2 linked regions of the Homo sapiens genome follow. The protein of the gene in region 2 interacts with the protein of the main gene of each other region in a pairwise test. Each region holds a gene or a part of one and is shown on either strand. Other genes may lie near its edges.

What was found. The genes of interacting proteins can lie anywhere in the genome.
Region 1: the proteins of PDE4DIP (region 2) and LIN37 interact in binary tests that used the Homo sapiens proteins (3 or more experiments, as listed by UniProt).

What each region holds. Positions count from the first base shown.
Region 1 is NC_000019.10:35,751,569-35,755,164, reverse strand, and holds the end of LIN37 (protein lin-37 homolog), read right to left. Parts: intron 2,990-3,596; coding exon 2,914-2,989; intron 2,732-2,913; coding exon 2,681-2,731; intron 2,362-2,680; coding exon 2,332-2,361; intron 2,252-2,331; coding exon 2,166-2,251; intron 2,079-2,165; coding exon 1,912-2,078; intron 1,149-1,911; coding exon 1,008-1,148; intron 920-1,007; coding exon 846-919; intron 773-845; coding exon 691-772; 3' UTR 646-690; downstream 1-645.
Region 2 is NC_000001.11:149,004,865-149,008,516, forward strand, and holds part of PDE4DIP (myomegalin), read left to right. Parts: intron 1-44; coding exon 45-573; intron 574-2,336; coding exon 2,337-2,572; intron 2,573-3,579; coding exon 3,580-3,631; intron 3,632-3,652. UniProt on the Homo sapiens protein: Functions as an anchor sequestering components of the cAMP-dependent pathway to Golgi and/or centrosomes.

The sequences.
Region 1 (3,596 bases), on a different chromosome or scaffold from region 2:
AAGACATCCGGGTACTACATTTCCATCCCTTCCCTATTTTGACACCAAATTATGGTGTAGACAGCCCTCCCCCAACCCCAGGCCAGTCAGGCACAATCCCCCCACCCCCCAAACGTCCTGGACTGCACAGACCTCCCACTCCAGACCATCCAGGCCTGGTTCCCAAGACCCGATCCTTCCCCTGCAACCAGACAGTCTACAACTGCCCCCTCCAGCCCATTTTCTGCCGTGAAACCCCAGCCAGCCACACCAGACTCTGGAACCCTTTTTCGACTGCCCCAACTCTTGGACACCAGGCCAACTAGAACACCCAACACCAAACTGTACAGACTCTCCCACCCCAACCTCCCCAGACTCTGCACGGATGTCCTAGGCCCCCTCCCCAACTCTAACCAGACCCCATCCCCCTAAGTCCCTTTGTCTTGACCCCCAAGTCTTCAACCAGATATCCTCGGCAACCCACCTCCCACCCTCCTCCTCTTCTCCTTCAAGACCCAACTGAGCACCCGCTCTGATTCCCCACAGCCTTTCTCCCTGCCACCACTCCCTTAGTCTTTCCCAGGCTTACTCTCCCAATAAATGTGCTAGAGCTCTGCCAACTGCTTTGTGCCTGGGCCAGGAAGGAGGGACCGGAGCAGACACCAGTGTGGAGCTGGGGGATGTTTACTGGTGTGGGGGGACCTGGGAACATCACTGTCGTTCGTACATCTCTCGTAGGATCTTCATGCTTTCTGAGTAACGAAGCTGGTTCCGATGAGAGGCCTCCTTCCACCTGGGGAGGCAGAGGGGAGACTCAGCAGTTGCAAAGGGCCCTACGAGGGGCAAGCAGGCTGGGGGACGCTCACCTCTGGCGGATGCGTTTCCAGCGCTGCATGTTGCGATAGATGAGTGTGGAGGGTGAGGGCTCGGGCTCAGAGGGCTGCATGGACAGACAGGCCAGGTTGAGTGGCCATTCCTGAGCCCTACCGCATGTGCCCCATAACCCTGGGCCAGCCTGGCATACTCACCTCATCGTCAGGGGTGCCCTGCATCTCAGGCTGCAGTGGAGATGGGATGCGGGATCTGCAGGCATCTCCGGGTGGCCCCGGGGGTGTGGGTGGCGGCAGCTTGTACACATCACGACTCTTGCTGTTGGTTACCTCTGAGCCCTGGGGACACAAGGGCCCCATGCCAGGCCCAAGAGAGTCAAAGCAGAGGGGCTGGGAATCCACATTCATCCCTCCTGCCTTTCCCAGCAACAAATGGCATGAGGGGCTCGCTAAGGGACTCAGACAGGAGGCATGTATGAAGGGCAGACACCTCAACCAGCCAGCGGGTCAAGTGTGCCTGCCCCAGGGACCCCTGTCTTCTCCTATCCAGCCCAGAGACTCCATCTACACCTGTCAGCCCAGGGAGTCGCGTCTGCCTGCCTCAGGGAATCCTGTCTAGGGGGTCACGTCTGTGCCACCTAGGAAGCTCTGTCCATTTCTGACAGTCCTATATGTCTGAAGGGTCCTATATGTCTGTCCTGGGGACCCTTGTCTACCCCGCTGGGTCAGATGGCTTATAGACTCCCATCCATTCCTGCCCAGCCCCTGCTCCTCAAGGCCTGGTGGCCACTTCTGTCTGTACTAAGGACCCTTGTCTAGCCCCTCGGCTCTTGGGAACCCCTGATCTTGGAGGTCCACATCTAACTGTCCAGGGTAACCCTGTTCCCTGTCTCCCAGGCCAGGTGGTTACGTATGTCTTCCCTAGGGACTCTGATCCACACCCCAACCTAAGAGTGCACATCTGTGTGCCTAGCCTGATCCAGGATTCACGTGAGGGACCTGTGTCTGTCTATCCCACTAGCTTAGGGGCAGGATCCTTTGAGCCTATCCACCCACTGCCCTGGCACCAGGCTGCTGGGCTGGGACCCACTACCCATCCCACCTCCTCATCCTCAGGCAGCGGGGGCAGGGGTGAGCTGGGAGAGCATTCACGCTCGCGCACAGAGGGGCTGTTGCGCATCCAGGCGCGGCAGATTGGGTACAGTGGCGTGTTCTCGCTGAACTGGGCCAAGTCCACGCTCCGGTCGAACAGCTTGATCACATATGTGTCTGGGAAGGTGGGGATGGGAGGTGTGTGAGCATCCTTGCATAGGCCCTTGGCTCCTTACCGACCCTCTAGGGCCACTGTCTACTCACTGGATCGCTGCGGCCCTCCCTCAGCCAGCCCATCATCCATCTCCCTCCTCTTCTTCCTCCGCTGGTGGGGGAAGCGGGCAGATGGCCTGCGTAGGGAGAGGGAGTGTCAGGACTGGGGTAGGAGCTGGGAGCCTCTAGTCAGCTGGCTGGGACCCTGCCACCTTACCTTTTGCCAGTGGCTGCGATGGAGCAGTCCCTGTGGGGAAAGACAGTTGACCCTCAGACAAACGCCTGTGCAAAACCCTGCAGAGGGCACCCTGGGGATACTGGTATCAAACCTGAGATGCTCACATGAACCCCACTTGCCTCTTGGGCCTTTTGTCCCACCCATACCCATGGGGGTCTAGGTGGCAACCACGGGGGGACCTAAGCTTCTCCTGCCACAGGGTCTTTGTACAGGTGGAGTGGTCCGGGCCACGATGGAGGTAGCGCTGGGCTGAGCGGTCAGGGCTTGGATAAGGAAAGAAGTTACCAACCACGAACTCTCAACTCCAAATCCAATCAGAAAAACTCACTTATTGTGGGTGTCTGAGGGTGTTTTCCCAGCTTCCTCATCCAGACGCTCCCTAGAGGCAGAAGAGATCTCTCAGCTCAGGGTTCCAGGGCCCCAGAGAAGGAAGGCACCGAGCAGCCTCCCCATTAAGCACCTTCCTCCCCAAGTCAGCCTGTGGGGTCCCACCCAATCCACCCAGGATCAGAGGGCCCAACCCACCAGGGTGCCCGGCCCTGTGACCCCACGCTGGCCTACCTGTCCATGTGACTCTTCTCCAGCAGACACTGCAAGACAGCATCCAGTTGGTTCCGGGCTTTGGCCATCTCCAGCTCTGGGGCAAGAGAGGACCCAGCAGGAGTCAGCTCCCAGGCCCCAGCTAGGTGGGCAGCTGACTGGGCCAGGGAAGGGCGTGCGTGTCCTCTGCCCTGGCCAATCTCAGAGCCAGGCCCAGGCAGCCTGAAAGGGTGCAACAGGCAGAGATGGCTGGAGTGATGCCCAGAGCTCTGAGTTCCAGAGCTGTCCCACGTGATTGCTCTGTGACAGGAGGTAAGGCCAATCACCTTACCTTATGAGCCTTTTGGGTTTTAAAAAAATGTGTTTTAATATAATATAAATTTATTACAAAAAAATTGTATAGAGATGGAGTCTTAATGATATTGACCAAGCTGGTCTTGAACTCCTAGATTCAGGTGAGCCATCTCGGCTTCCCAAAGTGCTGGGATTACAGGTGTGAGCCACTGTGCCTGTCCCAGTGGCAAGGTTTAAATATGCTATATATTACAAATAATAACCCACTGAATTATCACAATAACCCTTAGAGGTAGATGTGATTTTTTTTTTTCTTGAAAAAGGATATCACGATGTTGTCCGGTTTTGAACTCCTGGGCTCAAGCGGTCCTGCTGTCTCAGCCTCCCAAGTAGCTGGGGCTATAGGCACA
Region 2 (3,652 bases):
CACATCCAACTTTTATTTAGGAAGACATCTTTGTCTTTTTTCAGAGTGTGAGGAGCACAACAGCCTCAAGGAAATGGTCCTGATGGAGGGGCTGTGCTCTGAGCAGGGACGCCGGGGCTCAACACTGGCTAGTTCCTCTGAGAGGAAGCCCTTGGAGAACCAGCTAGGGAAGCAGGAAGAGTTCCGGGTATATGGAAAGTCAGAAAACATCTTGGTCCTACGAAAGGACATCAAAGATCTGAAGGCCCAGCTGCAGAATGCCAACAAGGTCATTCAAAACCTCAAGAGCCGGGTCCGGTCCCTCTCAGTTACAAGTGATTATTCGTCTAGTCTGGAAAGACCCCGGAAGCTGAGAGCTGTTGGCACCTTGGAGGGGTCTTCACCTCATAGTGTCCCTGATGAGGATGAGGGGTGGCTGTCTGATGGCACTGGGGCTTTCTACTCTCCAGGGCTTCAGGCCAAAAAGGACCTGGAGAGTCTCATCCAGAGAGTATCCCAGCTGGAGGCCCAGCTCCCAAAAAATGGACTAGAAGAGAAGCTGGCTGAGGAGCTGAGATCAGCCTCGTGGCCTGGGTAAGGATGGCACTGTTTGGGTACTTTCTTGATTGAAAATGTGTAAGTTCATGCTTGGCGTAGGGTAGCTCAGGCAGTTGGAAGAAAGAACATGTCTGGGTATTCACAGGGACACTGATTTAAATGGTAGATACAGGTCTGCAGAAAAGACAGGTAGGCAACCAGGAGGGCATAGGATGATGTTCCAGTATCTGGGAGATACCGGGTCTCAGGGATTTCCTCTTAGGGATATATTAGTAAAGATGGTATAGTATAGTAGTAATACTGGAATCAGACTACCTACCTCTGGTGCTTACTACCCATGCAACCTTCTTAACCTTTCTGAGCCTTTGTCCTTACCTATTAAATGAGGATGATAAGAGAACCCATCTCAAAGGGTGGATATTAGGTTTAAATGAATTAATACAACTGCTGACCAGGCGTGGTGGCTCATGCCTGTAATCCCAGCACTTTGGGAGGCCAAGGCAGGTAGAACACCTGAGGTCAGGTGTTCGAGACCAGCCTACCCAACACGGTGAAACCCCATCTCTACTAAAAATACAAAGATTAGCTGGGCATGGTGGTGCACACCTGTAATCCCAGCTATTCGGGAGGCTGAGGCAGGAGAATCGCTTGAACCTGGCAGGTGGAGGTTGCAGTGAGCCGAGATGGCACCACTGCACTCCAGCCTGGGTGACAGAGCAAGAGTCTGTCTCGGAAAAAAAAAAAAAAGAATTAATACAAGTGCTTAGAATAGTGCCTAGCATATGTTAAGCTCTCAATGCTATTTGCCATAGTTATAAGTGTTATTGATACTTAGTGTTGAAAACACAGACATTCATCTTGGTGTGTCCTGGTTATCTATTGCTAAGTAATAACCACTCTAAAACTTAGTGACTTCAAACAACACTTTATTATGCTTCATGGTTCTATGGTTTGACTGGGCTCAGCTGGGTGGTTCTCACTTAGGGTCTCTTGTTTTGGGTCCCATCAGTTGATGGTATGAGCGTTTAAATGATGGCCATCATTGCAAAATGTAGTCAGCCACAGTATCGTAACATAGAAGAAATTCAGGCATCAGGTGGTGGTTAAAACAGAAGGCATGAAAGGTTCTATCTAGACTTAGGATGAAATGATGCTAATTATTCATTGAGTAACTGCTGTGAATCTATGTGATACTGGTGCTGTAAGGGATGTAAAATGCAGAACTATGTTTATTCTCACAGACCTTATGATTTATCTAGGGACATATAATTAACACATGTATAACAGTTGAAGAACAGTGACATACTAAATTTTTTTTTGATACGGAGTCACTCTGTCATCCAGGCTGGAGTGCAGTGGTGCCGTCTTGGCTAACTACAACCTCCACCTCCTAGGTTCAAGCAATTCTCCTGCCTCAGCCTCCCGAGTAGCTGGGATTACAGGCATGTGCCACTATGCTCAGCTCATTTTTTTTGTATTTTTAGTAGAGGCAGGGTTTCACCATATTGGCGAGGCTGGTCTCAAACTCCTGACCTTGTGATCTGCCTGCCTTGGCCTCCCAAAGTGCTGGGATTACAGGCGTGAGCTACCACGCCCGGCCCGTACTAAGTTTTTTAATGCAATACTTTATCAGGGTAGAATTTACTCTTAAATACCTCCTATGGCTTATGTGCCAGAATTCAGCTTGGGGGAGTTCCTTAGAGATGTTCTCATAGAAATCTCTACAGAAGCCCCCATAACTCCATAAGTTAGCTTCCACTCTTTCCATACTTACACTTTCCTCTTCTGTCCTGCATTAGGAAATATGATTCCCTGATTCAGGATCAGGCCCGGGAACTGTCTTACCTACGGCAAAAAATACGAGAAGGGAGAGGTATTTGTTATCTTATCACCCGGCATGCAAAAGATACAGTAAAATCTTTTGAGGATCTCCTAAGGAGCAATGACATTGACTACTACCTGGGACAGAGCTTCCGGGAGCAACTCGCCCAGGGAAGCCAGCTGACAGAGAGGCTCACCAGCAAACTCAGCACCAGTAAGTTGGCCACAGGGCTTTGGAATACTCTCAGTCACCCCCACAGTTCCAGCCCCTGGTGGCCACCACATCTCCACTGCAACTTTTTATCCTAAGGTCCTGTTTCTATTTCATTTCCTGGGGCTAATACAGGATCAAGACTGCTCAGTGGGGAGCATGGAGAGGAAAACACAGGGCTGGAGATGCCATGGTTACAACTATAGAAACTTCACCACTAATGGAATGTGACCTGTGGGGCAGGGGCAGCATCTCTCTGATGCTAAGAGGGAGTAGGGGACATGAGATGGAAGGGCTTTGTTATAGGAGGAAGAGCCCTGAACCAAGAACTACAAGACTCAAGCTCTGGCCTGGATGCTGCCACCAACTCGCTAAATGCCTTATCCTTGTGGTGTCTCCATTTATGGCATGGTAATGTGCATGCAGGTACTCCACATATGGATAAAGCGCCATGCTCTTTTATACATGGTTTAGGCACTGGCTGCAGTAGTTCAAGGGCTACATTGGTTATTATTGGGGTCTTCTACTCAGAATTTCCAGCGACTATCCAAGGGAGTAAAGTAGGATCAGACTTGGGAGCCACCCAGCCCACCACCTGGTGGCAGATGCAGAGGTGGGGCAGGGCTTCTTGTCATCTCCTCAGAGACCAGTGCAGGTTCTGCATGAAAGCTGTGGTGGGGCATATGCATTGGGGAGCTAGTCTGCAGCAGGACATGGAGGCTGGAGTGTCCCGCAGGGCAGCTGGGCAAGGGCCTCATGATTAATGGAACAAAAGACATTATAAATGTTTTACCCTGATTTAGGGCAGAGGAAGTCATCATGGTGACCGGCAGGTCAGGGACAGTGGGGTCACTTCTCTAGAGACACAAGCTGAGGTATCCCAGAATAACTGTTCTGGATGCACACATGAAATGCTCACTACTCTGTCTCCAGATAGGCTCCTGCATTTGTAATGCGGGAAGTGGGACCAGCCTAATTTCTTATCGTCTCTTTCTAAATTTGGTTTACAGAGGATCATAAAAGTGAGAAAGATCAAGCTGGACTTGAGCCACTGGCCCTCAGGTAATTCAGAGGAGAATCTGG